4 linked regions of the Homo sapiens genome follow. The protein of the gene in region 2 interacts with the protein of the main gene of each other region in a pairwise test. Each region holds a gene or a part of one and is shown on either strand. Other genes may lie near its edges.

Region 1 (8,230 bases), on a different chromosome or scaffold from region 2:
AAAGAAGATGAGGAGAATGTAAGCCAGCTGAATCTAATGGAGATAGCTTAAGTGGGGTCAAAATGAACTACCAAAATAATCTGTGAAAAAAAAATATATATATAGGATTGTTTATCCGGGTGTCTAAATGCCAGAATAATTCATGGCTTGGTTAGAAAAAATATTTAGAATGACCACTCATTAAAAAAAATCATTATTGCCGCACACAGTGGCTCATGCCTGTAATCCCAGCACTTTGGGAGGCCGAGGCGGGCGGATCACGACGTCAGGAGATCGAGACCATCCTGGCTAACACGATGAAACCCCGTCTCTACTAAAAATACAAAAAATTAGCCGGGCATGATGGTGGGCACCTGTAGTCCCAGCTACTCGGGAGGCTGAGGCAGGAGAATGGTGTGAACCCAGGAGAGGCGGAGCTTGCAGTGAGCCGAGATCACGCCACTGTACTCCAGCTTGGGTGACAGAGCGAGACTCCGTATCCAAAAAAAAAAAAAAAAAAATCACTATTGAAATAAGTGTATATTAATTTGTTCTAGGAAAGGAAATGTGATGTTGTTGTGATCCCCTAGTTGAGAATGCCATGGCAGCCCAACATGTGCTTGACAGATTGGACTAAGAGAGTTGAGGATTATCATAGTTACACCTTAGCTGCCTCACCAGGAATGTGAGCTGTGAGTCCTTGTGTTCACCCACATCCACATGAGTTAAAAGTGGTAATAATGCAGCAATGAATGGCAGTCGTGTGTGTGTATGTAATATACTGAAACAACTTCTTTTAGTTATTGCGTTTCATTAGAATAAAGTCTTAAAACTCTCAAAATACCAGTCAGCGGTAGCTTCAAACATTCCTGATAAATAGTTTCTCCTGTGTGTTAGTCTTGGGATTACACACAGGACACACACTTTACACTACACTTAATCCTAATAAGTGAATCCATGTGCAGCATTTCCCTTTAACAGTTATGTTTCAAGCAATATGTCAGGATAGTAATATGAATATTTTAGGGCTAATAAGAAGATCTACAATTTGCAGGGCCCTGTACCAACTGCTTTAGATCCATTACCTCATTTAATACTAATGATAATCCTATGGGATAAGTCTTTTTATCCATATTTTACAGATGCGAAAGCTGAGGATTGGAGAGGCTGCCTACTGTGTCCATTACTGCAAAGCTAATACATGCTAGAGCCACTGTGTCTGACTCCAGTGTACCACACTGCCCTCAAGCTGAAGAGAGGAACTAAAAATAGCAAAAAAAGAATTTTCTCCAATAAATTAGTACCTGACCATTGGCTTTCTCTAACATAAAATGAACGAATTTCCCTTCAAAAACTGAATGTGGAAACTTGTCTACCGAATATAATTCATGCCCTTGAAAGAAATATGTCATATTCATTTTAATCTAAAGTCCAAAGAGACAACATGTAAATGCCAAATGATTTCTATTATGTATTCCCCAATTTTAGGAAGTCATAAAAATTAGTTAAATTTATATATTTTAGTTATTAAAAGCAGTATACTTAATGAAGAACGAAAGTCCATTTGCTGGTTAGTAAAGTGTGCATGACTTCTACTAAAACTATGCAAAACAAATCTCTTTCTACATGCAGGCTGTTGTACAGAGAGCCCTTGAAAGTCTACTTCTGAGTACTTACATGAGATGGTATGTAGATATCATAAGAGTTTCCTGAATCAACATCAATTACATGGAAACCAGTGTGTGAACCAAAAATAACCTTTAATCTTTGACCTTCTTCTACCGTGAGATCAACTAGCAGAGGCTTGTGCTGGAGATCTGCAAAAGACTTTAAAAATCACCCCATTAGTATCCGCATCACTCAAAGAGGCATCTTAATTTTTTTCCTTTAGCCACTGTCTAGAGGAAGTTAACTTCTAACTTTATTAAAGTGAAAAACTAGAAAATTTCTCTTTCAGTTTTAGGTCTGTTGATATTCTGGCCCTAGGAGGAAGGGTCTAGCATCCATTTGTGCCCCTTTCTCTACCCTTTGTCCTTCGGGGCAGTGAAGTTTAAGTTGGTGCACAGGTGTAAATTTTGATAGTGGTAATGTATATTAAAAACCTGGTGCCTGGGTATTGCTGTTTTTTCCTGTTTATTTCTGGCCTTTGTCCTCTGAAGAAGGCCCAGTCACCTCTCTGGCCCCCCTCTTTCCCATGTGGCAACCAGGCCCATCCACAGCAACTACCCTTTCAGAGACAGCCTGGGAGGGACAGCCAAGGCCGGCTGTTTTCTCAGCCTGTTTAGTATTAATGGGCATGCTCTGGTTTGGATTTTTCTTCAGTGAATGAGTAGGCATAAGATTGGCACTTTCTCTTAATGTTGGAATCTGAGACTTGGGTTTGGGTGGTAGAGAAAGAGGTGGGAGTGGAACATCACAAGATTGATGGCTTGCATTGACTATTTGGGTTTAACTAGAAAGCAAAAAGAGAGATCTTGCCAAGTTTGTCAAAGTTCTCTGTGTTTGAATCCAGAGCCCAAGCCCCAACTAACTGTCAAGTGTTCCTCTGCCATTTTCCTTTGCTATTTTTTAACCACGCTCTACCTTTGGGCCTTGAGATCTGGGAGAGCATTTGTGAAACTACAATTGCCTTAACTATAATGCCACTGCTACCTCTCAGACCCTTCTCTTCTCATCTTTTGCTAACACCATTCTGACAGCATGGGAAGCTCTAGCGTCCTGTCCTTGTCCTATGGGAAGGCTTGGCCTCTTGCCAGTTCCACTCTTTCCTGTTCAAGTCTTTGCCTTTGCTCTTCCCTCTTTCTGGGCTGGATAGGGTCTGTCAGAAAGAACATTTTGCACTCTCTCATGTGTCTCTGGGTCATAAAATAATGGCAATAACTTCAGAGCAAGAATGGGAATGGGATGTTGATTGAAAAGCTTTTGTGGAGATAGATTTTGGCAGAACAGGAGTACCACTTTGGCTTTTAGGAGTTATCCCTTGTTATTAGTAACCTAATGCATTCCAATTTTTTTCCATAAAAGTGAGGTCATGGAGGGGAGCCCATTTCCATTAATGAATCTATTTTCTTGAGCACATCAGAAGCCATCTGCCCTAAGGGAACAAGATAGAAGTGATTCAGCTCTGAAGTGGGCCTACATGGTGTTCCAAGGGCAGTTTTGCCCTTCATGAGAATGTGGCAGAAAATAATAAGGAGCCAAATGGAGATAACAGTCATAAAGGTGGGGAGAAAAAGTGAGAGCCAATGAGACATAAAGAAGTAGACAGACATAAGCTGAGAGAGAGAGAGACAGAGAGAGATCAGAGAGAGAGAGTGAGAGAAAACAGAAGATAAGTTCACTTGGGCTATGGATAGGTTATGCGGCTCTGAACACATCTGGGTGCCTGTAAGTACTGGTCCTCCTGGTATTCGGGTGTCAGCTTCATGAGCTGGGGTCAACAGGACTAGCATATCCCCATCCCACTCCTGGCAAATCTCATGAGTGACCAATCCAACCATGGTGGGTACAGACTTAGACAAGGTAAAAAAATGAAAAGGCAATCAAAATAGAAGAATGCAGAGAAACTAGGTCATTTCTGTAAGTTAGCACTGGGGACATATAAGCATCACCTGAGTTTTAGGGACTTCATTCAGAAAGATTTATGAGGATTAAAAGAGACTCAGTTTAACTCTGAGATTCAGTGCTGCCATTTGTCTGCCTTTTTCAAACAAAATATCAGGGAATACCCTGGTTTAGGTGGCTTTATAACAAATGTCATTGCATAAGATCATAATCAATGCTATGCCTACTAACCATTCTAAATGCCTCTTGAGGATGATGATTCATAGATCTCAAGGAGGAGGGCATACCCAAATTTTAATCTAATTTTATAGCATTTACAAATATTCAGTCTTTACTTTTGAAACAATAAACCCTAGAGTACCTACACTTTTAAAACAGGTTTATTATCTATATGAAAATTGGTATTGGTCTATATGGACTATTTTATTAATGGGTAGAAACGGAAAATTTTTAAAAAGCACATTTTAGATAATCACATCCCTGCTTACCTTAAATGCCATGAATTTATGATACGGTTTAGGAGCCCAAGCATATATTTCCACAGCATTCTTTAAGGCAATCACCAAAAATTTGATCCTTTCATATTTAACTGTAATAGAAAAATTATGAGTGAAAAAGTACATCAATTTACTCAAGTTCTTTGTATTAATATTAATGAATGTATAAGCAACAATATGTAAATTTAAATATTGATGTTGGGTGTCAGCTTCATGAAGGTGATATTCCTGGTGTGGGATTTTTTCATAGATACTGATTTAGCTTCCCTTAGCGAACTTTGGTTGGCAGAATACTTATGGCTTTTGCTTTATATTGAAGACTTTTCATCATCCAGAGATATAACTGCTTAGGACTGTCTTTAACACTAGGTCTTGATGTTGATATTCATTGTAATAAGAATGTGCATAATTTCCTTCATGTTAGCTTGCCTGGCTTTTACGTTCACCCATATTTAAGTAGCTGAGAGCAGATATGGCAAGATGGTAGAAAAATTAGCAAATGGGCAGATATAAAGGCTGCCATTTGCTTATTATTTATATTTGAATTCCAATTACCAAGTGAAATAATTGCTTATTTATGCTTCTAACGAAAGGGGGGTGTTAGGAGTCTTGGGTTCTGTTAGTGGCTTAAAGGGCTACGAATACTGACAAATCCTTTTACTCTTTAGAAAGATGGAATATTAAGCATTGTAAATTCTATGGACAGAAGCTTAGTTAAATGATTGAGTCCCCACAATGCTTTTGCCTACACAAAGTAGTACTCAATAAATGCTTATTGAATGGAAAAATGGAAGAACAGACTGTTGTCTGGCATTCTCTTCATTACTCTTACCTACGTGTGTGTCTCTGATAGAATAATAAGCAATGTTTACGGTGATGACCTTGAGAAATTGAACAATCCTTTAAGTGCCTTCTGAATCTTTTGCTGTTAAGTGTGGATTCTAATTCTTAGAGAATTCGTAATCCACAGTTGGTACACATGGCAGTCAGTTTCTTGGTAAAATATCTCAAGAAACAGAATATTCTGAGTCCTAAAGAAACTAGGTAGGAAAAATTTTAATATACTTAAATGACATTAAGTTTCCAGTTACTTGCTTTATAACTTTTCATGACATAAAGTGTTTATTAGACTATTTTTGCTGATCTCTTCATCTGAAACCTAGGAAAAGATCCACAGCTCTTGGCATTGAAGGAACATACCTCAAAATAATAAGAGCCATATATGACAAACCCAGAGCCAACATCATACTGAATGGGAAAAAGCTAAGAGCATTCCCCCTAAGAACTGGAACAAGACAAGAATTTCCACTCTTACCACTCCTATAGTATTGGAAGTCCTAGCCAGAACAGTCAGGCAAGATAAAAAAATAAAAAGCATCCAAATTGGAAAAGAGGAAGTGAAATTATCTCTGCTGATGACAGGATCTTATGCCTAGAAAACCCTAAAGATTCCTCCAAAAGACTCTTAGTGCTGATAACTTCAGTAAAGTTTCAGGACACAAAATTAATGCACAAAAATCAGTTACATCAATAATGCTCAAGCTGAGAATCAAATCAAGAGCTCAATCCCATTTATAATAACAGACACACACACACACCCCACACACACCCCTAGGATAATACATTTAACCAAGAAGGTGAAAGACCCCTACAAGGAGAACTACAAAGCACTGATGAAGAAACCACAGATGACACAAATGAATGGAAAAACATCCCGTGCTCATGGATAGGAAGAATCAATATTGTTAAAGTGACTATACTGCCAAAAGCAGTCTACAAATTGCCAATGTTGTTTTTTACAGAATTAGAAAAGACAATTCTAAAATTCATATGGAACCAAAAAAGAGCCCAAATAGCCAAAGCAATCCTAAGCTAAAAGAACAAAGTTGAAGGTATCACATTACCTGACATCAAACTATACTGTAAGACTGTAATAACCAAAGAAGCATGTTACTGATACAAAAATAGACATACAGATCAATGGAACAGAATAGAGAACCCAGAAATAAAGCCACATACCTACAACCAACTGATCTTCAACAAAGTCAACAAACATAAACAATGAGGAAAGGACACCCTGGGAAAATTGGCTAGCCATATGCAGAAGAATGAAACTAGATCCTTATCTCTTACCATATACAAAAATTAACTCACGATGGATTAAAGATTTAAATGTACCCAAAACTATAATAAGAAAACCTAGGAAAAACTCTTCTGGATATTGGCCTAGACAACATGTTTATGACTAACACCTCAAAAGCAAATGCAACAAAAACAAAAAAAGACAAATGGGACTTAATTAATAAGCTAATGAGCTTCTGTGTGGCAAAATAAACAATCAACAGAGTAAGGAGACAACCTACATGATGGGAGAAAATATTTGCAAACTATGCATCCAACAAATTTCTACAAGGAATGCAAACAATTCAACAAGAAAAAATCCTATTAAAAAGTGGGCAAAGGACATGAACACACATTTCTCAAAAGAGGACATATAAGCAGCCAACCAACAGATGAACAAATGCTCAATATCACTGAACATCAGAGAAATGTAAATCAAAACCACAATGAGATGCCATCTCACACCAGTCAGAATGGCTAATACTAAAAGGTCAAAAAAAAAAAAAAAAGATGGTGGTGAGGCTGCAGAGAAAAGGGAATGCTTATACACTGTTGGTAGGAATGTAAGTTAGTTCAGTCTCCTTGGGAAACAGTATGGAGATTTCTCAAAGAACTAAAAATAGAACTACCATTCTACCTAGCAGTCCCACTTCTGGGTAAATCCCAAAGGAAAATAACTTTTTTTTTTTTTTTTAAATCAAAAGGGCACCTGCATTTGTACATTTATTGCAGCACTGTTCACAACAGCAAGGTCATGGTATCAAGTTGTCCATCAATGGTTGATTAGATAAAGAAACTGTTGTATATATACAGCATGGAATACTATGCAGCCATAAAAAGAATGAAATCGTGCCCTTGGCAGCAACGTGGATGGAGCTGTAGGCCAATCTCCTAGGGTAAAATAACCCAGAAACAGAAAGTCAACACATGTTCTCACTTATAAGTGGAAGCTAACAATGGGGTGCACATGGACACAAAGCTGGAAATAATAGACACTGAGGACTCTAAAAGGGGAGTGGCAGGTTAAGGGCTGAAAATTTACCTGTTGCGTATAATGTTCGCAATTTGGCTGATGAGTTCACTGGAAGCCCAAGCCTCACCATTATGCAATATACCCATGAAACAAACCTGCATATGTACCCCCTGGATCTAAAATAAATTTTAAAAAGAAAAGAAAAAAAAATCCCTTCAGATTTTGCTGATTTTCAGGGTGAAAGAAGAAATAAATAAGTTTATATTTTTAAAGAAATTTAAAATCATCTTGAAAATAAAAACTTATCTAAGCACATATAGGCTCAGATAAATCAAGAAATATTTTAAATGACTCTTGGATATACAATTTGCTTTTCTTTTTTATTCTCATTTTATATTTTTAAAATTTCACAAGAATTTGAACATACTAGAATACTCGTGCTACAAGAAGATGTCAGTGCTGTTGTGGCTGGAATTTCATAGGGGAAGCTAAGTGGAAACTACAAGTGGTTCTTTGGATAACTAAGGCAAACAGTGTTTCTGAAAATTAAGCTGGTCTCAAGTTTTCTGATAGAGAATTACCAGATATTGCTCCCTGGTTAAATTTTACTTTAGATGTGTGGATATAGATCAGCCTACTGATGTTAGGACAATGAAGGGACGGCAATGATTAGAAGGAAGACGTCAGAAATGTTAGAAGGGCCAACAGTAGATGTGCAGGTCAAATAGGATTCCTGTAGCCTGATGTTTTTGAAAAACACTTGTCAGGTATATGCAAGAGATAATATTCAGAAATTTTGCATTATTTCCTGCAATGAATTTTATTGCTCTGTAATCATACAGTATTAGTTTATGGACACAAAATTTGATCACTAGAAATCTTTGGACTAACAAATGCCAAGTAATAAAGGCAAAATACTCAAAAGGAAACAGCTTTGAAATTGTTTCTATTGCTTTCCCCTGAAAACATGACCTGTTCTCAAAGAAAGCAGCTCACTATTTTCAAAAGAAAACCAAATATGCATATGAATCTGAATTCTATTTGGTGTGAGAATGATGGGATGTATGTTTTATACTTTGCCAAATTATCAGATTGA
Region 2 (8,230 bases):
CCACCTAAATCTCAACTTGAATTGTATCTCCCAGAATTCCCACGTGTGTGGGAGGGACCCAGGGGGAGGTAATTGTATCATGGGAGTCTTTCCCATGCTATTCTCGTGATAGCAATTAAGTCTCACAAGATCTGATGGGTTTATCAGGGGTTTCCACTTTTGCTTCCTCCTCATTTTCTCTTACTGCTGCCATGTATTCATCTTTAAGATCTGAGCTCAAATGTCACTTCCTCAGAGAAGCCTGCCTTGACCATCCTCATTATATCAGCTTCCTGTGGTTTTAACAGCTCCCTATTCTTCCATTTTTATGCATAACTTACACACTTGTGTGTAAACGATATATTAATGGCTGGTTTCTGCCTTCAAACTGGAAATCTATGAAGGTGGGGTCTGTGTCTGTTTTGCTTACTATTGTTAACATCAGTCCTTAATTAGCACAATTTTTGACTCAATGTATATACAGAGGTGATTTATAGGGGATATCATCAATTTAGCTGATAGGTTAGATGAATGCCTCTTAATATGCTTTTTTCTTTAATTCCTAAGAAGTAAAGGAAGTAACAACTTGGAAATTAATAACAATTCAGACTTTAAGACATGATAGAAATAGGAGAACAAATTCACTTTCTTGAGATGTGAAGATCTATGAAGAATTAGTTGATTAAAATCTCGTCTCTTATTTTACTGGGCAAGTCACTTAACATCTTTGAATCTAAATTTCCTCATTTGTAAAACAAAGAATAACATTAGTCCTTCCTACCTCATGTAATTATTGTGAGGATCAAATAAGGCGTAAGACACCTCATTTGTAAAACAAAGGATAACATTAGTTCTTCCTACCTCATGTAATTATCGTGAGGATCAAATAAGGCATAAGACACTGGGCGCGGTGGCTCATGCCTGTAATCCCAGCACTTTGGGAGGCCAAGGCAGGCGGATCACTTGTGGTCAGGAGTTTGAGACCAGCCTGGCCAACATGGCGAAATCCCATCTCTACTAAAAATACAAAAATTAGCTGGACATGGTTGCAGGTGCCTGTAATCCCAGCTACTCGGGAGGTTGAGGCATGAGAATCACTTGAACCTGGGAGGCAGAGGCTGCAGTGAGCAGAGATTGTGCCACCACACTCCAGCCAGGGTGACAGAGCGAGACTGTGTCTCAAAAAAAAAAAAAAAAAAAAAAATCAAATAAGGCATAAGAATGATAAACTATAAAATACTAAGCAAATGTTATCTAGTACAGTTATTACTGAGTAAATGAAACACTAGAGAGGTACATACATGAGAACGGTGATAAATTTAAGTATTACACTTTTTTTCATTATATAAATGTCAATATAGATAAAAGGTCCAGAATTAAAATGTTTAGAGTGAAACCTGAATTTTTCTTTTTTTCTTTTTTGATAAACACTTTCCTAATGTTACAGAAATATATTGCAAAACCAAATAAATCCTATCCAGGGAATGTTCTGGATAATGATAATAGTGATGATGATGAGGTAACAGCTATTATTTACTGAGTTGTATATGAGGAACTATTCTAAGTGCTTTACACATATACTTATTTAATTTTCTTAATAATTTTATCAGGTAAGTACTATTATTGTTACCTTCACTTTGCACAAAAATGTTAGACAAATTTGTCCAAGATTACACATCAAGAGATTTAAACATGGGCAGTCAGGCTCCAGAGTCCACACTGGTCTCTTTTCAATTCACTACCTTAAACTTTGCTTCCATTTGAGTAAATTTCTCAAGTTCTACATAAAATACTATTGATCAAGTTAAATGTTCATCTACTGAGTACAAAAGAAAATAGTTAACAAAACTGAGGGGTAGAAATGCAGCAAGTAAAGGCTTTAAGATTTTAATACCATAGATTTAAGAATAAGTCTATCCCTTTTCCTTTTAGAATCTAACTGCATTCTGAGTTTAAAAGATATGGTCAAAATAAAAACAGTTTGGTTGTATACACTGACCAGGATATGATCCACTCGGTCTCTTTTCTTTCTTCCAAATTTCATCATTTTCTGCCAATCTGTTTTGTGGTTTGGCTCCTTTTTAAGACTGAACAACTTGAGTACTTCACTTGCTATGAAGCTCTGTGGAAACAAGACAAATACACGAAACACAAACAACAGAAATTCCTGAGTTTCATGTGTTTACAATGCAGTAAACAGATTCACGATAAGAATATAATATTTACAATAAAATTATCATACAAATTTCTTCCACTTACAGTTCCACATAGCAATTTGAAGGGAAAAGCATTCCAAATGCTGAGACTTTATTCACTTACGCAACATATAAAAGTAAAACCTAGCTGGGCACGGTGACTCACGTCTGTAATCCCAGCACTCTCTGAAGCCAAGGCAGGAGAATCACTTGAGCCCAGGAGTTTGAGACCAGCCTGAGCAACATAGTGAGAGACCTCATCTCTACAAAAAATATATAAAATTAGCTGGGCATGGTGGTACATGACTGTAGTTCTGGCTACTCAGGAGGGTGAGGTGGGAGAACTGATTGAGCCCAGGAGGTCCAGACTGCAGTGAGCTGAGATTGCACCACTGCACTCCAGCCTAGGTGACAAAGCGAGATCTTATCTAAAAATAACAACAACAACAACAACAACAAAGTAAAACCCACTGATTAATCTGCAAAGAAAAATCACTTTAGAGTTTACTTAAGAACTACCATGCTGGGTGCGGTGGCTCACGCCTGTAATCCCAGCACTTTGAAAGGCCAAGGCGGCGGATCACCTGAGGTCGGGAGTTCGAGACCAGCCTGACCAACATGGAGAAACCCTGTCTCTACTAAAAATACAAAATTAGCTGGGTGAGGTAGCGCATGCCTGTAATCCCAGCTACTCAGGAGGCTGAGGCAGGAGAATCACTTGAATCCAGGAGGCGGAGGTTGCAGTGGGCTGAGATCACGCCATTGTACTCCAGCCTGGGCAACAAGAGTGAAACTCCACCTCAAGAAAAACAAAGAAAAAACAACAACAAAACTACCATTAGCTAACTTCAAGCTGGCAAAACTACTAAAGAAAGCATAAAATAAATCTCTGAATTGGAAAAATCTCAAAGAAATTTTTGGGGACAATGTAATGTGAGAAAAGCAAAAGACTTTGGGATAGTTTATTTTGAAGCACCAAAACTCAAATATGTTAAATTAAAAAATATCAACACTTCAGTATGAGAAGCATAATAATTTTACTACTAACAATATTTGAACTATCACCCTTAAAAACTTTACAAAATGTTATGTCAATATTAAAATTAGTGGGCATTTATTGTATGCTATATTGATGCATGTAGTTTGATTGTTGGTATATATTATATATCTTGTCTTACCTCAACTTAATGTTATTAATAATTTATTTTGTTACTTTTATGGTTGTTCTGTTAAAAAAACAATGTTCTTAACAGGGGAAGGGACACATTTATGAATCAGAATCACCTGGAAAGATTCTCAAAGTACCAACGTGCCCGGAAATTCCATCACTCCCTACCTGTTCACAGACACACATAGCATTCAAGCATTTTCAATTGTGAAAGGGTAGAAGGAATGGAGTATACAATGTGTTTTTAAAAAGCTAGTTACTTTAAGCCAGGGGATGGCCAATTTTTTCTGTAAAAAATCAGACTGTAAATATTTTAGGCTTTGCGGGCCATGTGGTCTTTGTCACAACTATTCAATTCCACTGTTGTAGTTACATGTAGTTGTAACATGTAAACAACTAGGTATGGCTGTGGTCCAACAAAACTTTATTTATAAAAACATACAGGGGCCTGGATTTGGCTTATGGGCCATAGTTTGCCAACCCCTGAGGTAAGCATACATCCCATCTCATAAATATCTGTTGGTGTTCTATAAGTATAAAATATTTTTAAAGGCTTTCTGTGATCAAATAAGTTTGGGAAATACAAGTTTAAAGCTTTGCTACTCAGCGTGGTCCTGGGACCAGCAGGACCAGCAGGACCAGCAGGACCAGCATGACTTGAGAGCTTGTTGGAAATGCAGAATTTCAGGTCCTACTCCAGACCTACTAAATCAGAATCTCCATTTCAACAAGATCCTCAGATCATTCACATGCACATTAAAAGTTGAGAATCACTGCTCTGGAAATATAACCTTTGCCGTAAAGAAACATGTGACTAGGCAGAGCAGATTGCCAGCAATGTGACTTTAAAGTTCATAGTCCTTGTAGCTTCTGGACAAAGGTTTACAAAGGTTTCTTAGATAACAAAATAAATATTTTTACGTATCACATTACTATCCTACATAGTTCAAAACCACATTACCAATTTGAAACCTCCAAAGTCAAAGATAAAGAAGTTAACACCTATGTGTCCAGGGCTGGCATATTGAAAAGACATATATATGACACGTATTCATATGTACTTTTAGAACATTATACCTATCTCTAAAGCCCCCAAAACTTACCTAAAACTCCTATTAGTTGCAATAATTTATCTCCCTAGGTATTTCCTAATTTTTCTTAAATATTATAATTATGTATATAGAGAAAATGACTGGTAAAAGAATTTTTTTTTTTTTTTGCACAAACTTGAGGATTCAGCCCTTTCACTCATTCCAATCCCTCCACTGTTCATGGATTCAGTAAGTCAACAAATCTTTATTGAATACCCACTATGGAACAGGTCCTGAAGACACAAAGGTTAATCATACAGAAGAGCACCTGCTTTTACAACATTTACAGATATGTGTAAATGAACAGCAAGTCAAAAAAGAAGACACTTTATAGTTTGCAGTTTACCTTGATTTCATCAAGGTTATTTGGATTTTTCACTCGTCGGAAATAACTAGAGTTGATTCTACATGGCTTCATCCAGACAGGTTGATTTAAGTTGGGATCCTCAGCAAATATTTCCTCAAAAATCTCTTTTGTTAAATCAAAAACCGCCTTGATAGAGAAAAACAAAACAAAACAAAACAAAATGGCTAAGAATCCAAATTTCAGACAATGGGAGAAAAGTTTAAAAACTAAAATTATCCTTTTATTTCACCTACCTGTTTGTAGACCCTTTTACTAGTGCTTTCTATATCTAGACCTTTACTGGCACAGCCAAGCAGTTTTGTAGGAATACTGATGCTATGAAGATCGTGGCCTAATTCTTTCCATTTCCAAAGTTCTTCTGCTGCATTATGTACAAGAATCTCTACTTCTTCTGCAGTATGGGGGACTGCCAATAATGTTTCACATGGTTGTTGGGTTACTCTTTTAGGTTCTGCCATTAGAGGTACAATGGTTTCTTCTGCCTTATTTTTTTGGATCTTGTGAGAAGAGCTCAAACCAAAGTCTTCATCAAACCAGTCTTGATCATCTCCTAACGCGCTCAGGAACTCCCGGCTGAGTTCAAGTTCAGCAAGTCTCTTAGCAAGTTCTTCCTGCCCACTGGCACCAAATACTGGGCTCTCCTATAGAAATGGAACCATTCAAACAGAGCACCATTTAGGGACCTCATATCATTTTTTTTTAAAAAAAGACAGAGTAAATGCATTATTTATATATCTAATATTTCTCTATAAGTAAGCAGAATAAAAAACAATATGGTGGCTACTAATAAACAATCTAAGAAAAAGTTATCCTGTTCCCTCAATTCTACTTATATAAACCTTGCATATAACTGAATTTTTATAAAATGTTTATTGATTAGGGCTCTCCCCGCTTTTTGTATTATCATTATTCTGTTTCTAAAGAACTGTCTATGGGATATGGAAATGGGATATAAAATTTCTCACCTCTGGTGACCATCTGGCTCAAGTTACTCAAAGTCATTACTTTTGCTCAACTGTCCATGGGCAACATAAACAAGCTGATGGTCTGAGTGCATGTCATAGTGGATCTATTTCATTTTACCAGAATCAACATCACAACTGCTAACCTCTGCAGGCCAACCATGACTGAGTAGATATGTAAACAATTTCACAGGCAAAAAAGAATTGGGTGGTGAGCCACTGGAAAGCTCCATGGAACGAATTTGTTCAGTGAATCTGGAAGGAGATGTAATCTATGGACAGTACAGGGGTTGTCAACTCAGCAGTTTAAATGGATGTTTTAGTTCCCCAAAACCTGCCAGTGCTTGTGACAACCCTATATTGACTACTCATGACATAATAGAGGACAATTACACTTCAGCCAGGAAAAACAGCTACAAGGCCTTTAAAAACCAGTACAGTGATCCTTCTCTAATAAACAACACGTCAAGGGAAAAAAAACCTATCAGGAGTCACAGAATTAAAATGTACTATATAGGCAAGGTAAGTTGCCTTGTTAAAAGTGTCAAAAGGTATACTGATACTTTTTCTAGACGAAATACTCACCGGTCTGGGACACATATCTGGAGAGGAAATCTCTTCTTTTTCATCTTCCAATTCAGAACTTAAGAAGCAACCTGAAATACTTGGCGACTGTTCCTCAACATTTTGGGATAGGTCTTGGGGTGTTACTTTCTTTTGGTCATCACCAAGAAGCTCCTGATTGCTAAGCTGGATTTTCTCATCCCTGGTTTTTTTGATTTGTTGTAGTTGATTGACTGTGTCCTTTACAAAGACTTTTAGTAAACTGTCTGTCAGTAAGCTGATTTTTTCCAGTTGTTGTTTTGACTTTTTTTCCTCATTTAGTGATGACTTCAGCTGGGCTTCCAGTTGGTTTTTTTCTCTTGTTAAAAGATCCAGAAGTGGTGTACAAAGCTTTTCTGAAGCTTCAGCATATAGGTTGTCTTCCTCTTCTGTAAACTGCTGTTGCTTCTCCAATTCTTCGGAAAAGGTATTGTCTAAAGTGTCATCTTCTGCAGCGATGGAAACCTTTTCTGTGGCATCAGAAATGAGGTCTTTGTTTTCCTTTGAAGAAATCTGTGAATCCACTGAAGACTGCTGGTGAACATGGGCTTCAAGTACCCCAGAAATGTCCTGTACATTGTCTGTTTCTATTTTAAGGCTTCTACTTCTATTAACTGAGGCTTCTATATCATTCACACTAGGTAGGGATTTCTCATAAAAATATTCACTGACATCCTTTTCTCTGTCTTTTGGACCCTCTGTATCATTTTGCTCTTGATTATAGCACTGATATCGTTCATCTGAGTAACAGTCTTCATCTTCATTAATGTCTACATAGTCATCAAAGTTTTCTGGAATGTGAGATATTTTTTGAGGAGGAGCAAAAATACCATGCTTTTCTTTGCACTCAAAATATGCAATACCATCATATGTTCCATTGTTATTTCCTTCAGGTTTATCTAACTCCACTCCGGCCCAAAATCCTTTAGCAAAACTAGTCTCACCTTTGAATCGAAGAATTCCTGGCTGAACATTTCCAATCAACACCCTATCACCAATGTGGAAATCAAATAACTCGTCTGCAGTAGGAACTGAAGCCAAGGAAGGGGATTCAGTAACTTGCTGTTCATGCTCCACATCACTGCGCTCCTTACTTTTCATCAGCTCAGTAGGGGACTTGAGTTCCAACAGCCTGTCAGAATGAACATTGCTATGGATAGAAAGGCTTTTCTCACTTAGGCACTCACTGATTTCCTCATTACTACCAAAGCTAGTGGCTCCACTTGTAGAGCTCCTCATTGGCTGTGGCTTATCTCTGCAAGACTGAGAGTCTTTCCTGAGTGACAGCAAAGATGACACCTCAAAATCATCTTTGTACAATTCAGCTGAAATTTCTTTCTTGAAAGAAGACACTTCAAAATCTTCAGAGTATGGTATCTCTTTAGGAGCAAAAAGATGTTCTGACCAAGACAAATCTTTTTCCTTTGTGTTCTTTTGTTCGTGAATGTCTTTTCCTGATTGGATGTTTGGACTATGATTCATATCTTGATCTGACTGTCTCTCTTTCAACATTTCCTCACTTTTATGGAGATTTTCAATAGCTAATCCAACTAGGTCTTTCTGAACATTTTCAGAATCTAAAGGAAGATCTTTCTTTGAAAGAATTTCAGATGAATCTCCCTGTTCTAGGACTAATTTCAGTAAGACATCAGATTTACCTTCTTTAGAAAAGGCATCTTCAATCTTACTCTTCTTCAATTTTGTATACTCTATTTCTTTTATTTCTGATTTTTTACTAGATTCTCCAACCTTGCCATCTGACATATCAAGAATTCTACTAGTGGCATTTAATTCTTTGAGAAGATGTAATGCAGGTACATTTTCTAGAGAATCTCCAGATTCTTCTCTGATTTTCCTTGATGATC
Region 3 (8,230 bases), on a different chromosome or scaffold from region 2:
GCTTCACTCTTGTTGCCCAGGCTGGAGTGCAATGGCACAATCTTGGCTCACTGCAACCTCTGCCTCCTGGGTTCAAGCGATTCTCCTGCCTCAGCCTCCCGAGTAGCTGGGATTATGGGCATGTGTCACCACAGTCAGCTAATTTTATATTTTTAGTAGAGACTAGGTTTCTCCATGTTGGTCAGTCTGGTCTCGACCTCCTGGCCTCAGGTGATCCGCCTGCCTCGGCCTCCCAAAGTGCTGGGATTACAGGCATGAGCCACCGTGCCCGGCCGCAAACCTACAATTTCTAAAGTGTGAATGTGACAATTTTGTGCAATACGCAACGCGCAAAACAATGGAAGTGCTGATATTCTTTTGAAAAACAACCCTTATGGCCATGTGGACTATCAGTAAAAGAGAAAGAGACAAGAAATTCAGAAGAGAGATGAGACCTCAACAATGGCCGAAGCAAAGGGGATGGAGAGCAAGAAGAGCCAGGAGAAATCTGGAAGACATACTTAATTACTGATGACATTTGGGGAATGACAAAGGAATAAAAGGACACACTGGCCAGGTGCGGTGTCTCAGGCCTGTAATCCCAGCACTTTGGGAGCCCAAGGCAGGCGGATCACGAGGTCAGGAGTTTGTGACCAGCCTAGCCAACGTGGTAAAACCCTATCTCTACTAAAAATACAAAAATTAGCCAGGTGTGGTGGCAGGTGCCTCCCACCTACTCGGGAGGCTGAGGCAGGAAAATTGCTTGAACCCAGGAGGCGGAGGTTGCAGTGAGCAGAGATCGCACCATTGTATTCCAGCCTGGGCGATAGGGCAAGGCTCCATCTCAAGAAAAAAAAAAAAAGGCGAGACACTCACCAAAGACTTCAAATTTGGAAGATGCCCATTAACAAAAATGAAAAATACACAAGGAGACATAATTTGGGGATAAAAAGGAAAGTGAAGAGAGAAGGACCAATTTCATATTGAAATGTAATTATTTTAAGTTGCCTGTGGAAGATCCAAGACTCAAGCTGTGATATGTGGGTATGAAGCTCAAGAGAGGGGAATGGACTAAATGCATATATTTGAGAGGCATCAACATGTCACAGAGGCTGAGGCAAAGAGAGAGAGGATGAGATCACCCAATGAGGTGAAACAGGGAATTATGGGCAGAGAGAGATTGCCTCTCTAGACTCCAGACTCTTATCAGTGCTCAAGCCTCTAACATGCCTCTCCCGGAAACCTGCCTATAGTCAAGGCAGCACATATGCCCTCTGCACAAGTTTCATGTCCATAAGCAAAGAAAAAAGAAACCCGATTTTTAAAAATCAGTTTCATTACCATCTGCAAAGACAAGACAATGCAAGGCAAAGTGAGCAAATGACAGCTGAGGAGATGCAAATTCAAATGAATAAGATTAGTGCGAGTATATGAGTACTAAGGAGGTAAAAAGTCCTGTATTAGCCAGTACAGGCTTCCAGAAACCTCCTGGTTAGAGATGGCTAGGAGCCAAGGGGACTGATAAAGAAGAAATGGAGTGGGAGGGGCCATTCCATTTTAAAAAGCACAAGTGACAACACAGATTTCGGCAATGGCAAGCCATAGGTCGGGGTAAAAGCAGACTTAGTTGGCTGAACCAGAGGAGCTGCCTCGGAGAGTCACAAAAAAAGACAGAGGTGTTGAAAGAATACTAGGCTGAAAAGTTTACATTTACCATAATCAAGAGGAGACAACTGCCAGGTTTTGAGCTTCACAGTAAGATAAAACAACAGCATCCAAAGAACACTTAACAGCTGTGTGTAGGCAGTCTAGCATGGAGAAATCCAGAGTCAGAGATTAGTGAGGAGGCTGTTAATATAACGTGAGCCAGAGAGGTCAAAAAGGCAGTTCAGCAAGTCTCTGTGAAGGAGCTGATGCAGGTGCACGAAGAGTCAGCTATAAATCTAAAATCCTAAACCTGGAGCCTCAAATGATGATGGTGTTATGGGCAGGTCCCACTTTTAAATGCTATGCGTTCCAAGGGGCATCTGTTTGCACTTGCTGGAAACAGATGAATGAGCAGGTAACAGACTGAGAAGTGAAATATGTCTTCACTAGGCATTGGGAAATATGTGGTGACTGACTACTCATACTGACAATAAGAGAAGCCAGAAGAGAACAGATTTTGAGAGCAGGGCAAGAGAGGAATCCAGTGAGCAGCAGAGAGCATGGCTGGCAGATGCAGGATAATAAGAACTACCCTTTCTGCCCTCCATCAATACAGATACTTTATTCCCCCAAAGTTCTCAAGTTATGGTGTTCCTTTTTACTACTTCCTGAGAAGCTGAAGTAGTGACTGCACAACAGTTATGTAACCAACCTTAAATAGTAACTTCACCCGTTTCAGCCTCCAATTCCAACTTTTAGAAATGGAGTGTTTTACAATATGGCAAGTGCAGAAGGATGGGTGTTCCTGAATCTTCAACCCAGTCCCTCCAGTAAAACTCCATAAACTGAAAACTATGACAATAGAGGTCATGTCCATTTTCGCTTATCAATATATCTGTAGCACCTAATCTAACACTTGGCATACAGCGGGCATACAATAAATATTTACAAGTGAATTATCAAATGCTATTTACTCTCTGCATGAGAGTAATAATTATCCCAGTTTTCTTTCCTGCCTTCTCTCTCCCTTCCTTCTATGGCTCTTCTTACGATGGAATGCTCTGTTCCTCTCTTTGGGCAATCCCATCCATTCTCACATCTAGGTGGATAAATCCCAATTCTCTATTTTTCACCTCTATATCTTTTTTTTTTTTTTTTTTTGAGACAGAGTTTTGCTGTTGCCCAGGCTGGAATGCAGTGGCGCAATCTCAGCTCACTGCAAACTCCACCTCATGGGTTCAAGCAATTCTCCTGCCTCAGCCTCCTGAGCAGCTGGGATTACAGGGGTGCATTACCACACCTGACTACTTTTTGTATTTTTAATAGAGACGGGGTTTCACCATGTTGGCCAGGCTGGTCTCGAACTCCTGATGTCAGGCGATCCGCCCACCTCGGCCTCCCAAAGTGCTGGGATTACAGGCGTGAGCCACCGCGCCCGGCCCAGCTCTATATCTTTCATTCTAGAGTTGAGGGGATCCGTCAGAAAGAAATTCTGATTATTCCTTAAAGAACTCAAGTGATCTGATAGACCACACAAGGCCAGAAATCAGGTAACCTCAAATAGTGCTGTCCAATAGAATTTTCTGCAATGACGGAAATGTTCTAAACCTGAACTGTCCAATAAATTACCCACCACGTGACAATCGAGCATCTAAAATGTAGCTAGTACAACAGAGAAACTACATTTTTTACTTAATAGTTAAATAACTCCACGTGGCTGGGGGGCTACCATAATATCCACCACAGTCCTGGAAACTTGCCCTGCCCTGATCCATCTCAAGTCCCTCAGGCCTGAAGTTAAGCTCATCATACTGTAACTCCACAGTGCTTATGTATTTCACCTCCCGTTCCTCTTCACAGAACTAGTCCCACTTGCCCATCCCTCTCTCTCCTCTCTTCCCCAAGAAACACATACATACTGGCATACCTGCTTTGTGCTCTGCTCTATTACATTTGAAAGATATTGCATTTTTTACAAATTGACAGTTTGTGGCAAATCTGTGTCAAGCAAGTCTTTCAGTGCCATTTTTCCAACAGCATGTGCTCACTTCAGGTCTCTGTGTCACATTTTAGTAATTCTCACAATATTTCAAACTTTTTCGTTATTATTATATCTGTTACAATGATCTGTGATCAGTGATCTTTGATCTTTGATGCTACTGGAAGAAAATGCCATCTAGGACTTTCACAGGTAGAGAGAAGTCAATGCCTGACTTCAAAGCTTCAAGGACAGGCTGTCTTGTTAGGGACTAATGCAGATGGAGACTTTAAACTGAAGCCAACGCTCATTTACCATTTCAGAAATCCTAAGGCCCTTAAGAATTATACTCAGTCCACTCTGCCTGTGCTCTATAAATGGAACAACAAAGCCTGGACGACAGCATGACTGACTGAATATTTTAAGATCTCTGTTAAGAACTACTGCTCATAAAAAAAAGATTCCTTTCAAAATATTACTGCTCATTGACAATGCACCCAAGATCCCTGATGGAGATATATTATACAGGGAGATAAATATTGTTTTCGTGCTTGATAAAACAACATCCATTCTGCAGCCCATGGATCAAGGAGTAATTCTGACTTTCAAGTGTTATTAATTAAGAAATACATTTCATAAGGGTATAGCTGCTATCAACTGTGATTCTTCTGATGGACCTGGAAAAAGTAAATTGAAAACCTTCTGAAAAGGATACAACCATTCTAGATGCCCTTAAGAACATCTGTAATTTATGGGAGGAGGTCAAAATATTAACATAAACAGGAGTTTGGAAAAAGTTGATTCCAACCCTTATGGATGACTTTCAGGGGTTCAAGACTTCAATGGAGGAAGTCACTCCCAATATAGCAGAAATAAAGAGAACTAAAATTATAAGTAGAACCTGAAGATGTGACTGAAATGCTGCAATCTCATGATCATACTTTAATGGATGAGGAGTTGCTTCTTATGGATGTGCAAAGAAAACGGTCTCTTGAGATGAAATCTATTCCTGATGAAGATGTAATGAACATTACCAAAACGCCAACAAAGGGCTGGGTGTTATGGCTCACACCTGTAATCCCAGCACTTTGGGAGGCCAAGGCGGGCGGATCACGAGGTCAGGAGATCGAGACCATCCTGGCTAACACGGTGAAACCCAGTCTCTACTAAAAATACAAAAAAATTAGCCGGGCGTGGTGGCGGGCACCTGTAGTCCCAGCTACTCTGGAGACTGAGGCAGGAGAATGGTGTGAATCCGGGAGGCGGAGCTTGCAGTGAACCGAGATCGCGCCACTGCACTCCAGCCTGGGCGACAGAGCGAGTCTCCGTCTCAAAAAAAAAAAAAAAAAGAAATTGCCACAGACATCCAAACCTTCAGCAACTATGACCCTGATCAGTCAGCAGCCACCAACGTCAAGGCAAGACCCCCCCTACATCAGCAAAAAGATCACAACTCACTGAAGGCTCAGGTGACTATTAGCAATTTTTAGCAAAGTACTTTTAATTAAGGTGTGTACATTGTTTGTTCAGCCATAATGCTATTGCACACTTAACAGACTACAGTATAGTATAAACATAACTTTTATATGCACTAAGAAACCAAAACATGCATATGTTCACTTTATTGCAGTTGTCTAGAACCAAACCCACGTCTCTGAGGTATGCCTGTATGTATACCCTTCAAGTATAATATACTGAACAGCATCTCCCAAATAAATCGCTCTTTTTTTTTTTTTTCTGAGACAGGGTCTCACTCTGTTGCCCAGATTGGGTGCAGGGCGTCATCACAGCTCACTGCAGCCTCAACTTCCTTGGGCTAAAGTGGTCCTCCAGCCTCAGCCTCTGGAGTAGCTGGGACTACAGACACACACCACCATGCCTTGCTAATTTATTTTATTTTGAGATGGGGTTCTCACTATGTTGCCTACACTGGTCTGAAACTCCTGGCCTCAAGCAATCCTCCTGTCTTGACCTCCCAAAGTGCACGGATTACAGGTAGGAGCCACACCTGGCCTAAGTCATTCTTAATATGGTCTCCTGGTATTCCTTTCTCCTAAAACCCAAATCCTATTTAACTTTCAAGCCTCACCTCCTCCCTAAAGCCTTCATTGAGCTGTCTTCTCTTCTCTACATCTTATTATTGGATGTGGTCAAACTACCTTCACAGTTCTCTGACTGTTTAATGTGGATGTAATTCTACTTTCCAAACAAGATTATAATCTCCCTGCTAACAGACTGCATCACTGCCTACGCATTCACAAAACAATGAGGAGGGGTTTCGGGAGATCACTGTCCTGGGCCAGGCCTAGTCTTTACTCCAGGATCCCCCGGTTTTCAGCACCTTTATCAAGTGCATACTATGTGCTAGGCACTATGCTAAATGTCTTACTTACATGGTCTCATTTTAACACTCACAACTCCATTCTGAGAAGAGAAAATTCAGGATGAGAAGATAAGTAACATGTTCAAGTCACATAGCCAATATGTGCCAGAACTACAATTTGAATTCCAAAGAATGGGTTCTTAACCACTGCATCATATAACTTTTGGCTTCACTCATTTGATCGTTCAGTCAAAATTACTACACTCCTGTGTATCTTGTGCCATTCTAGTACTGGGAATAAAGAGATAATATATGAGCCCAGCCTTCAAAAAACTCAGCCTTAGCCAGGCATGGTGGCACGTACCTGTAGTCCCTGCTACTTGGGAGACTGAGGTGGAAGGATTGCTTGAGCCTAGGGGTTCAAGTCCAGCTTGGGCAACACAGCAACACCTCATCTAAAAAAAATAAATCTTGTGGAGGAGAAAAACACAAACAATTATGTTAATAGTAGATGTGGTAAACATGATGATTGCTCTGTGCAAAGGGTGGAAGCACAATGCTAGAGTACCCAACCGAGATTGGGAGGAAGGAGGTGTCAGGAAAAAATTTCCTGGAGGAGGTGGACCTAAACTTTATAACTGAGTCCCATTTATAAACTGGGTTAATTAGGTGAAAAGGAGCAGCCTAATTAGGTGAGGAGCAGGAGGTGGAGAAAGGAAACAGGGAGAAGATTCCAAGCAAAGAGAACAAGGGCAAGTACACAAAGAAGAAATAGCACAGTACCCATGAAGATGCCATTCAGTGTTGCTGGAACCTAAAGCATGAGGCAGAGAAGAGGCTGGAGATACAGGCAGGGTTCAGAACAGGCAGAGCCCTGGCTGAGAAGCTCAAACTTTAGAACTTTCAATGGATTTTGCAAGCCAGTAGACAATGAATGTTTGCTGAATGAATTAGAGAAAAGAATGGATGAATGCATGGACAGATCTTTAAAGATTAAGCAGGAATTTGATACAGACTTGTTTCCAAAGACCATCTGGGGGTGGAGGGGAGTAATGTGAAGAAAAGATATGGGGGAACAGGCCTAGAAGCAGGGAAATCAGTTAGAAGGCCATGATATTGCAGGTAAAAGGACAACAGTAGAGATGGAGAAGACTGCACAGATTTGAGAGATGTTTAGGGGGTAAAACTATCAGGACTTAGTGATGAATGTGATAAGAGTTAAGTCCAGGAAAGACACTGAGTTCAGTTTCAGTCATCTGAATTTGAAGTGTCTGTGGGACTTGCAGGCAGAGCTGTCCAGGAGGATAGTCAGATGTGAGGGTAAAGCTCAGAGAGGTCTAAGCTGACAATTTCAATTTGGGGGCATGTAGGAGGTAGTTAAAACCAAGCCAGCTGATGGGTTCACTCAGGCAATGTGTACAGAATGAAAAGAACAGTTTTCATTCTGAATGCTGGTAATATTATGTATCTGTAACCTAATCTGGATGGTGGTCACATAGGTATAATCATTTTATAAAAACTGGTCAAGCTTCACATCCACATGTATGTTTATTGCAGCACTATTAACAATAGCAAAGAGTTGGAACCAACCCAAATGCCCATCAATGATAGACTGGATAAAGAAAATGTGGCACATATATACCATGGAATATTATACAGCCATAAAAAAGAATGAGTTCATGTCCTTTGCAGGGACATGGATGAAGCTGGAAACCATCATTCTCAGCAAACTAACACAGGAACAGAAAACCAAACACCACATGTTCTCACTCATAAGTGGGAGTTGAACAATGAGAACACATGGGCAGAGGGAGGGGAACATCACACACTGGGGCGTGTCAGGGGGTGAGGGGCTAGGGGAGGGATAGCATTAGGAGAAATACCTAATGTAGATGACAGGTTGATGGGTGCAGCAAACCACTATGGCACTTAGTATACACCTATGTAACAAACATGCACGTTCTGCACATGTATCCCAGAACTTAAAGTATAAAAAAAAAATTGGTCAAGCTAAAAAAAAAAAAAGAACAGTTTTTCATTGTTTATATGCCAAAGTCACAAACAACAGAAACACCCAACATTTTAGGGAAGGAGGAAAATGACTACCCATAGCAGAAATGACTGGTAAGAAAGGCACATGGAGAACAGCTAGAATGTAAATTCCTTAAGAGAAAACAATTTATCTGTCTTGTTCATCTCTGTATCCCAATCAATACTTGTTGAATAAATCATCTGAGAGCACTGACACGTAAAGCAAAGAAGAAGGGAGTAAAGGGATGACCAAGTTCCAAAAGCAGCAAAGA
Region 4 (8,230 bases), on a different chromosome or scaffold from region 2:
AAAAGTAAACTTCGGTCCCATTTCTTTCCTATCAATTTGTGTTACAACATTTCTAAGACTTAACTATTACTTGAAATACCCAAGAGAAGTGGATTCAGATTCTCCAGATGTCCCTCTGCAAGCATCTCTCATGATTAAAATGAGCCAGTCCAACTTAATACATCTCCAATAACTAAGTTACTGAGCAACTGGCAAGCATAAGAATGAGAATTAAAATATGAGCCAGTCCAACTTAATACATCTCCAATAACTAAGTAAGTTACTGAGCAATTGGCAAGCATAAGAATGAGAATACTGACCACAAAAAAAATCTTCAAACACTGATTTTCTAGAAAGGCCTGCCTCTCTTTACCTAAAAAGCAGTAATGACCTACCTTGTTTTCGAACATCTTCTACAGCAGCCACAAGCTCCTCCTTGAGAAACTGGCTCTCCTTCGCAATTTTATCCCCCTTCTCCAAGAAATTCTCAGTTGCTTGTTCAACAGATGCAGCCAAAACATGGGCCTTCTTAGAACGACCTCTCTTCTTATTAGAGGGCCCTTTACTATTGGTGTTTACAAGGGTTGTAACCTAAAAGTTTCATTTTTAACATTAAACTGGAGTCAATTAAAATGACAAACTAATATCTTTAAAGACAGCAAGATTAAGTTATTCTTTTAAAAAATCACATGAGATTCCACTGAACATTAACATACAATTCCCCATATTTAAGATATACAGCAATGATGCTATATTTAATTTCCAAAATAATTCAGCTTTCTTAATGTGTACAGAGAATTATTTAACACATATTTTAATTTCTCAAATATGATCATTAGGTTTTTAGTTTGATTTTACAAATTAAAAAATGATTAGAGACAAGTTAGATGTCTCTACTATATGTCACCAAGATGTTCCAGAAAGAGGTTAACAATGAACTTAGCTTTATCTGGAGATCACACTGCCACTGTTTTCAAACTTTGCAAAACATTTTAAGATAATTTGCTTCTGAAGTCTTTTGACAGTTTATTCACACAAATCTCAGCAATTAGTAAAGGTCCCAATAAACGAATGATTGCCCAAAGAAGCCTACAGTGATGACGCTTTATGTCTTAGAACATTACCATCATTAATACACATAATACCAGATTATCTCTAGGTTAAAGATGATGAATATATGTTATAGTGTAAATTTGCCAAACAAGACTCATTTTCTCTCTCTCTCTCTGAATCTCTCACATACAAACAATAGACATACTATTGTAAAACACTAAAAGTACACAGCTAGTTGCTAACAGTTTATGAACTACCCTAACATTGTGACATTTGTAGCATACCAAACCTAAACCCTCAAGTTGAATTACCTGCTAATTAATCCCACACAATGAAAGGTGTGTTAAGCAGAGTGAGAGACCTTAACAATCAAGGATCCAGACTCCACCTTTCTTGGGTTTCCCCTCTGAAGAAAGGTGAAGTATCTGCAAAGCACAAACATTTGCAAAGTTGCACTACATACCATGGACCCGTTACTAGCAATAAGACTGAAGAAAACGACAGCAGCAGCGTTCTCAAGGGTTAACTAAACCCATGCATCAATATTCAAATCATCTAAGAACTGTCACCTAAACTCAAGTACTGGAATTAAGGCTTTGAACTAAATAACCTTGCTCTTATGGTTGTTACCCAGGCCTGTGCTATAGAACCATGTTACAATGTATTTGTGTTTTCAGATTCTTACCTGTGTAACAAGAGGCTCCAACAGTCTCTCAACTGCCAGAGTCCTGATCTCTAGACTTTTAGGATCCCACTTGAAGTTTATGTTGCCTGCATGGACAGCAGTCATTTCTAAATAAGAAACAAAAAGTCAGTCAGGCAAACATCAAACACAAACATGAAATATGTAACAAATCTTCTCCTACTTTGGGACTTTTGCATCAGGAAAGCTATATTCACTATAGATGAAAAAATTCTAACTAGCCTACACATGAAGACCCAGTAAACCTTACAACCTCTTAATATTTAATGATTTCAGGCTTACAAATAGGAGGGGTACTACAAGAGGGCATTCCCAAACACACAGAATGTTTCCCTTTGGGCTTCTCTAGCACCAAGACTTCCTACCTCAGTTCCTACTCACTTTATCTGCCCCACCTTTAGAAACAAGATGAAAAGCTAAAGTGAATGAAAGCTACTTTCTTTTTTTTTTTTTTTTTGAGACAGAGTCTTGCTCTTTCGCCCAGGCTGGAGGGCAGTGGTGGATCTCAGCTCACTGCAAGCTCCGCCTCCTGGGTTCACGCCATTCTCTGGCCTCAGCCTCCCAAGTGGCTGTGACTACAGGGGCCCGCCACCACGCCCGGCTAATTTTTTTGCATTTTTAGTAGAGACGGGGTTTCACCGTGTTAGCCAGGATATGATGGTCTCGATCTCCTGACCTCATGATCCACCTGCCTCGGCCTCCCAAAGTGCTGGGATTATAGGCGTGAGCCACCGCACCCGGCCAAAAGCTACTTTCAAAGACACTGCTTCAAAAACGAATACAGAAGATCCTGATTTTTCCTACTCCACAACATTCATGGTACAGTAGTATCTAAAAGGTATGCTTCACTTCATTTTTTGATGGATTCCTAGAGAAGGACTTGTCTTATTCTATTAAAACATAATGTTTAAATCAGCTGCCCTCTGCACCCACAGCTATTATCACTCATAGCCAGAAGAAATTTCAAATCACACTTAGTCAAATATCACTGTATCAGTGTCAAGAGAAACTTCTGTCAGACAGCGGCTTTAAGAATAGGGAGAAAACATCAACGAAAATAACAGTTAGTCTTTTCTTCTAAAAGTAGTGCCTTCAATTATTAAAGAAAAAAAGAAAAGAAAAGGCATGAAGCTGAGGTAAACACTAATATAAACTTTCTAGACAACAAACTGCTGGTAGACATTTAAAAGCTTAAAGGCTGGGCGTGGTGGCTCACTCCTGTAATCCCAGCACTTTGGGAAGCCAAGGCGGGCAGATCACCTGAGGTCGGGAGTTCGACACCAGCCTGACCAACAAGGATAAACCCTGTCTCTACTAAAAATACAAAATTAGCCAGGCTGGTGGTGCACGCCTGTAATCCCAGCTACTCGGGAGGCTGAGGCAGAAGAATCGCTTGAACCCGGGAGGCAGAGGCTGCAGTGAGCCGAGATTGTGCCATTGCACTCCAGCCTGGGCAACAAGAAAAAAACTCCATCTTAAAAAATAATAATAATAATAAAAATTAAAAAAATAAAATCTTGGCCAGGCGCAGTGGCTCACGCCTGTAATCCCAGCACTTTGGGAGGCTGAGGCGGGCAGATCATGAGGTCAGGAGATTGAGACCATCCTGCCTAACACGGTGAAACCCAGTCTCTACTAAAAATACAAAAAAAAAATTAGCCAGGCGCAGTGGCGGGCACCTGTAGTCCCAGCTACTCGGGAGGCTGAGGCAGGAAAATGGCGTGAACCCCAGAGACGGAGCTTGCAGTAGCAGAGATAGCGCCACTGCAGTCCGGCCTGGGCGAAAGAGCAAGACTCCGTCTCAAAAAAATAAAAAATAAAATAAATAAATAAAATAAAATCTTTAAAAAGTACATTTGTATGACCCAGAAAATCTACTGCTAAAATCTTATTCTAAAGTTAAGGAACATGTAAAAACTGGGATACAATGATGTTCACAACACTGCTTTATATAAACATTAAAAGTTATAAATTACCTAAATTTCAAACAACAGATCACTCAATAAATTATGTAACAATGACACAACGGGCTACAATGTTACTCTTAAAAACAATGTTGGCAAATTAAAAAACAAAACAACCAGCCTGGCCAACATAGTGAAACCCCGTCTCTATTAAAACTACAAAAATTAGTCCAGTGTGGTGGTACACGCCCGTAATCCCAGCTGCTCAGGAGGCTGAGGCAGGAAAACCACTTGAACCTGGGAGGTGGAGGTTGCAGTGAGCCAAGATCGCACCACTGCACTCCAGCCTGGGCAACAGAGCAAGCTCTTGTCTCAAAAAAAAAACAAAAACAAAAAAAAACCAGTGTTATCAGTGCCCAAGTATTTATTTCTATTAAATACCATTTGCATGGTGGTTCATGCCTGTGATACCAGCACTTTGGAAGGCCAAGGCAGGAGGATCACTTAAGCCCAGGAGTTTGAGACCAGCCTGGGCCACACAGAGAGATCCCATTTCTACTTATTTTTTTTTTAAAAAACGGACCATTTCCCATTAATAGAAACCAAAGTTCCAGGTCTGAAGCACTGTATTGTGCGGAAAGGGGACAAGACTAACAAGATCATATCAAAAGACACAGGAAGCAAGGGCTCCCATCAGCCAAATTTAGGACAACTATCAAAGAGAATAATGACTGTAACTGTCTGTAACTAAATAATTAAATAAATATCCTTAAGACCATAGGGATCCTCAAAAGAAAGGGTATGGGGAGGGAATTTCTTTACCATGAATCTAGAATAGAATTAGAAAATGACCATCTTGCAACCCCCACTGGTAAAAACTGATCCAGCCAAGGATTAGCAATGAATGTCAAAACTACTGGGTGAAAACTGGCCAGGCATGGTGGTTCATGCTTGTAATTCCAGCACTTAGGGAGGCCAAAGTGGGTGGATCACCTGAGGTCAGGAGTTCGAGACCAGCCTGGCCAATGTGGTGAAACCCTCTCTCTACTAAAAATACAAAAATTAGCCAGGCGTAGTGGCGGTTGCTTGTGATCGCAGCTACTCATGAGGCTGAGCCAGGAGAATCGCTGGAACCTGGGAGGCAGAGGTTGCAATGAGCCGAGATCATGCCACTGCACTCCAGCCTAGGCAACAGAGCAAGATTCCATCTCAAAAAAAAAACGTAACTTTGAACTAGATCCCTCATAAAAGACTACCAACCACTGCCTTCTTCAGAGAGCTTTAGTGGAGATTAGATAGAACAAAGTATGATCCATTGACTAATGCATGAGTCCATGCTAATATGAATAAAGAAGGAAAAGTTCTTCCAAACAATAGGAAACAAACTAATAAATGTAGAAAGAACAATGTATTTAGAAAAATCAGCATTCAGGAACCATAATATTAATTGCCTCAGGCAAGAATCAAAGAATGCTAACCAAGTAGATTAGCATTCAGTTTCTCAGTAGCGTGATCTAGTGTCATAGTAACTCCCAACAGATTATTTATTTATGACAGATGGGGGAAATAGTAACTTCACAGTCCAGAAACCTGAGATGCCACCTTAACCAAGTAATCAAAATTACTGTCCCTAATAAGGACACAAACCCACATCACGTATCTCCTAACACGATGCACTGAGAAGGATACAACATCACCTCTGTGTTATTTCGCCTGAAAATTACATAACCTCAACTAGTCATGAGGCAACATCAAATTCAAAGCGTGAGACGATCTACAAAATAACTGGCTGTAGTCTTGAAAAATGTCAAAGCAGCCGGGCGCGGAGGCTCACGTCTGTAATCCCAGCACTTTGGGAGGCCAAGGCGGGTGGATCACGAGTTCAGGAGATCGAAACCATCCTGGTCAACACTGTGAAACCCCGTCTCTACTAAAAATACCAAAAAATTAGCCGGGCGTGGTGGCGGTCGCCTGTAGTCCCAGCTACTCGGGAGGCTGAGGCAGGAGAATGGCATGAACCTGGGGGAGCAGAACTTGCAGTGAGTGGAGATGGTGCCACTGCACTCCTGCCTGGGCCACAGAGCAAGACTCTGTTTAAAAAAAAAAAAAAAAAAAAAAAGACAGATTAAGAAACATTTCCCCTCCCCCTCTCCCTCCTCCCCCTCTCCCTCCTCCCCCTCTCCCTCCTCCCCCTCTCCCTCCTCTCCCTCTCCCTCCTCTCCCTCTCCCTCTCCCCACGGTCTCCCTCTCCCTCTCTTTCCACGGTCTCCCACTGATGCCGAGCTGAAGCTGGACTGTACTGCTGCCATCTCAGCTCGCTGCAGCCTCCCTGCCTGATTCTCCTGCCTCAGCCTGCCGAGTGCCTGTGATTGCAGGCGCGCACCGCCATGCCTGACTGGTTTTTGTATTTTTTTGGTGGAGACGGGGTTTCACTGTGTTAGCCGGGCTGGTCTCCAGCTCCTAACCGCGAGTGATCCGCCAGCCTCGGCCTCCAGAGGTGCCGGGATTGCAGACGGAGTCTGGTTCACTCAGTGCTCAATGGTGCCCAGGCTGGAGTGCAGTGGCGTGATCTCGGCTCGCTACAACCTCCACCTCCCAGCCGCCTGCCTTGGCCTCCCAAAGTGCCGAGATTGCAGCCTCTGCCCGGCCGCCACCCCGTCTGGGAAGTGAGGAGCGTCTCTGCCTGGCCGCCCATCGTCTGGGACGTGAGGAGCCCCTCTGCCTGGCTGCCCAGTCTGGAAAGTGAGGAGCGTCTCTGCCCGGCCGCCATCCCATCTAGGAAGTGAGGAGCGCCTCTTCCCGGCCGCCATCCCATCTAGGAAGTGAGGAGCGTCTCTGCCCGGCCGCCCATCGTCTGAGATGTGGGGAGCGCCTCTGCCCCGCCGCCCCGTCTGGGATGTGAGGAGCGCCTCTACCCGGCCGCGACCCCGTCTGGGAGGTGAGGAGCGTCTCTGCCCAGCCGCCCCGTCTGAGAAGTGAGGAGACCCTCCGCCTGGCAACCGCCCCATATGAGAAGTGAGGAGCCCCTCCGCCCGGCAGCCACCCCGTCTGGGAAGTGAGGAGCGTCTCTGCCCGGCAGCCACCCCATCCGGGAGGGAGGTGGGGGGTCAGCCCCCGCCAGGCCAGCCGCCCCGTCCGGGAGGGAGGTGGGGGAGTCAGCCCCCCGCCCGGCCAGCCGCCCCGTCCGGGAGGGAGGTGGGGGGGTCAGCCCCCTGCCCGGCCAGCCGCCCCGCCCGGGAGGGAGGTGGGGGAGTCAGCCCCCCCGCCCGGCCAGCCGCCCCGTCCGGGAGGGAGGTGGGGGGGTCAGCCCCCCGCCTGGCCAGCCGCCCCGTCCGGGAGGTGAGGGGCGCTTCTGCCCGGCCGCCCCTACTGGGAAGTGAGGAGCCCCTCTGCCCGGCCAGCCGCCCCGTCCGGGAGGGAGGTGGGGGGGTCAGCCCCCCGCCCGGCCAGCCGCCCCGTCCGGGAGGTGAGGGGCGCCTCTGCCCGGCCGCTCCTACTGGGAAGTGAGGAACCCCTCTGCTCGGCCACCACCCCGTCTGGGAGGTGTGCCCAGCAGCTCATTGAGAACGGGCCATGATGACGATGGCGGTTTTGTGGAATAGAAAAGGGGGGAAAGGCGGGCAAAGGATTGATAAATCGGATGGTTGCCGTGTCTGTGTAGAAAGAGGCAGACACGGGAGACTTTTCATTTTGTTCTGTACTAAGAAAAATTATTCTGCCTTGTGATCCTGTTGATCGGTGACCTTACCCCCAACCCTGTGCTCTCTGAAACATGTGGTGTGTCCACTCAGGGTTGAATGGATTGAGGTGGTGCAAGATGTGCTTTGTTGAACAGATGCTTGAAGGCAGCATGCTCGTTAAGAGTCATCACCACTCCCTAATCTCAAGTACCCAGGGACACAAACACTGCGGAAGGCCGCAGGGTCCTCTGCATAGGAAAACCAGAGACCTTTGTTCACTTGTTTATCTGCTGACCCTCCCTCCACTGTTGTCCTGTGACCCTGCCAAATCCCCCTCTGTGAGAAACACCCAAGAATGATCAATAAAAAAAAAAAAAAAAAAAAAAAAGAAACATTTCCAGAGGCCGGGCATGGTGGCTCACACCTGTAATCCCAGCACTTTGGAAGGCCAAGGCAGGTGGATCATGAGGTCAGGAGATCGAGACCATCCTGCCTAACACGGTGAAACCCCGTCTCTACTAAAAATACAAAAAAAAAATTAGCCAGGTGTGGTGGCAGGTGCCTGTAGTCCCAGCTACTTAGAAGGCTAAAACAAGAGAATGGCATGAACCTGGGAGGCGGAGGTTGCAGTGAACCGAGATCGCGCCACTGCACTCCAGCCTGGGCGGACAGAGCAAGACTCCGACTCAAAAAAAAAAAAAAAAAAAAAAAAAGAAATATTTCCAGATTAAAGGAGGCTAAAGAGACTTAAACACAGTGATTCTGGACTGAAATTGTGTTGAGAAAGGGAAAAACATTGAGACAATTGACAAAATTTGACTATGGGTACTGAATTAAACAGTAGCATTGTATCAATGTTAAATTTCTGAATTTTCATCATTATACTGTCATTATACTGTCATCAAATCTAG

What was found.
Region 1: the proteins of CEP350 (region 2) and TNIK interact in a two-hybrid assay, tested with the Homo sapiens proteins (one large-scale study listed by IntAct).
Region 3: the proteins of CEP350 (region 2) and APTX interact in a two-hybrid assay, tested with the Homo sapiens proteins (one large-scale study listed by BioGRID and IntAct).
Region 4: the proteins of CEP350 (region 2) and CTNNA1 interact in binary tests that used the Homo sapiens proteins (3 or more experiments, as listed by UniProt).

Annotation. Positions count from the first base shown.
Region 1 is NC_000003.12:171,067,192-171,075,421, forward strand, and holds part of TNIK (TRAF2 and NCK-interacting protein kinase), read right to left. Parts: intron 4,133-8,230; coding exon 4,032-4,132; intron 1,807-4,031; coding exon 1,657-1,806; intron 1-1,656. UniProt on the Homo sapiens protein: Serine/threonine kinase that acts as an essential activator of the Wnt signaling pathway. Recruited to promoters of Wnt target genes and required to activate their expression. May act by phosphorylating TCF4/TCF7L2.
Region 2 is NC_000001.11:180,092,734-180,100,963, reverse strand, and holds part of CEP350 (centrosome-associated protein 350), read right to left. Parts: coding exon 6,348-8,230; intron 5,442-6,347; coding exon 5,034-5,441; intron 4,927-5,033; coding exon 4,780-4,926; intron 2,102-4,779; coding exon 1,979-2,101; intron 1-1,978. UniProt on the Homo sapiens protein: Plays an essential role in centriole growth by stabilizing a procentriolar seed composed of at least, SASS6 and CPAP. Required for anchoring microtubules to the centrosomes and for the integrity of the microtubule network.
Region 3 is NC_000009.12:32,990,952-32,999,181, forward strand, and holds part of APTX (aprataxin), read right to left. Parts: intron 6,398-8,230; exon of another isoform or gene 6,292-6,397; intron 1-6,291. UniProt on the Homo sapiens protein: DNA-binding protein involved in single-strand DNA break repair, double-strand DNA break repair and base excision repair.
Region 4 is NC_000005.10:138,775,517-138,783,746, reverse strand, and holds part of CTNNA1 (catenin alpha-1), read right to left. Parts: intron 1,825-8,230; 5' UTR 1,823-1,824; coding exon 1,718-1,822; intron 571-1,717; coding exon 375-570; intron 1-374. UniProt on the Homo sapiens protein: Associates with the cytoplasmic domain of a variety of cadherins. The association of catenins to cadherins produces a complex which is linked to the actin filament network, and which seems to be of primary importance for cadherins cell-adhesion properties.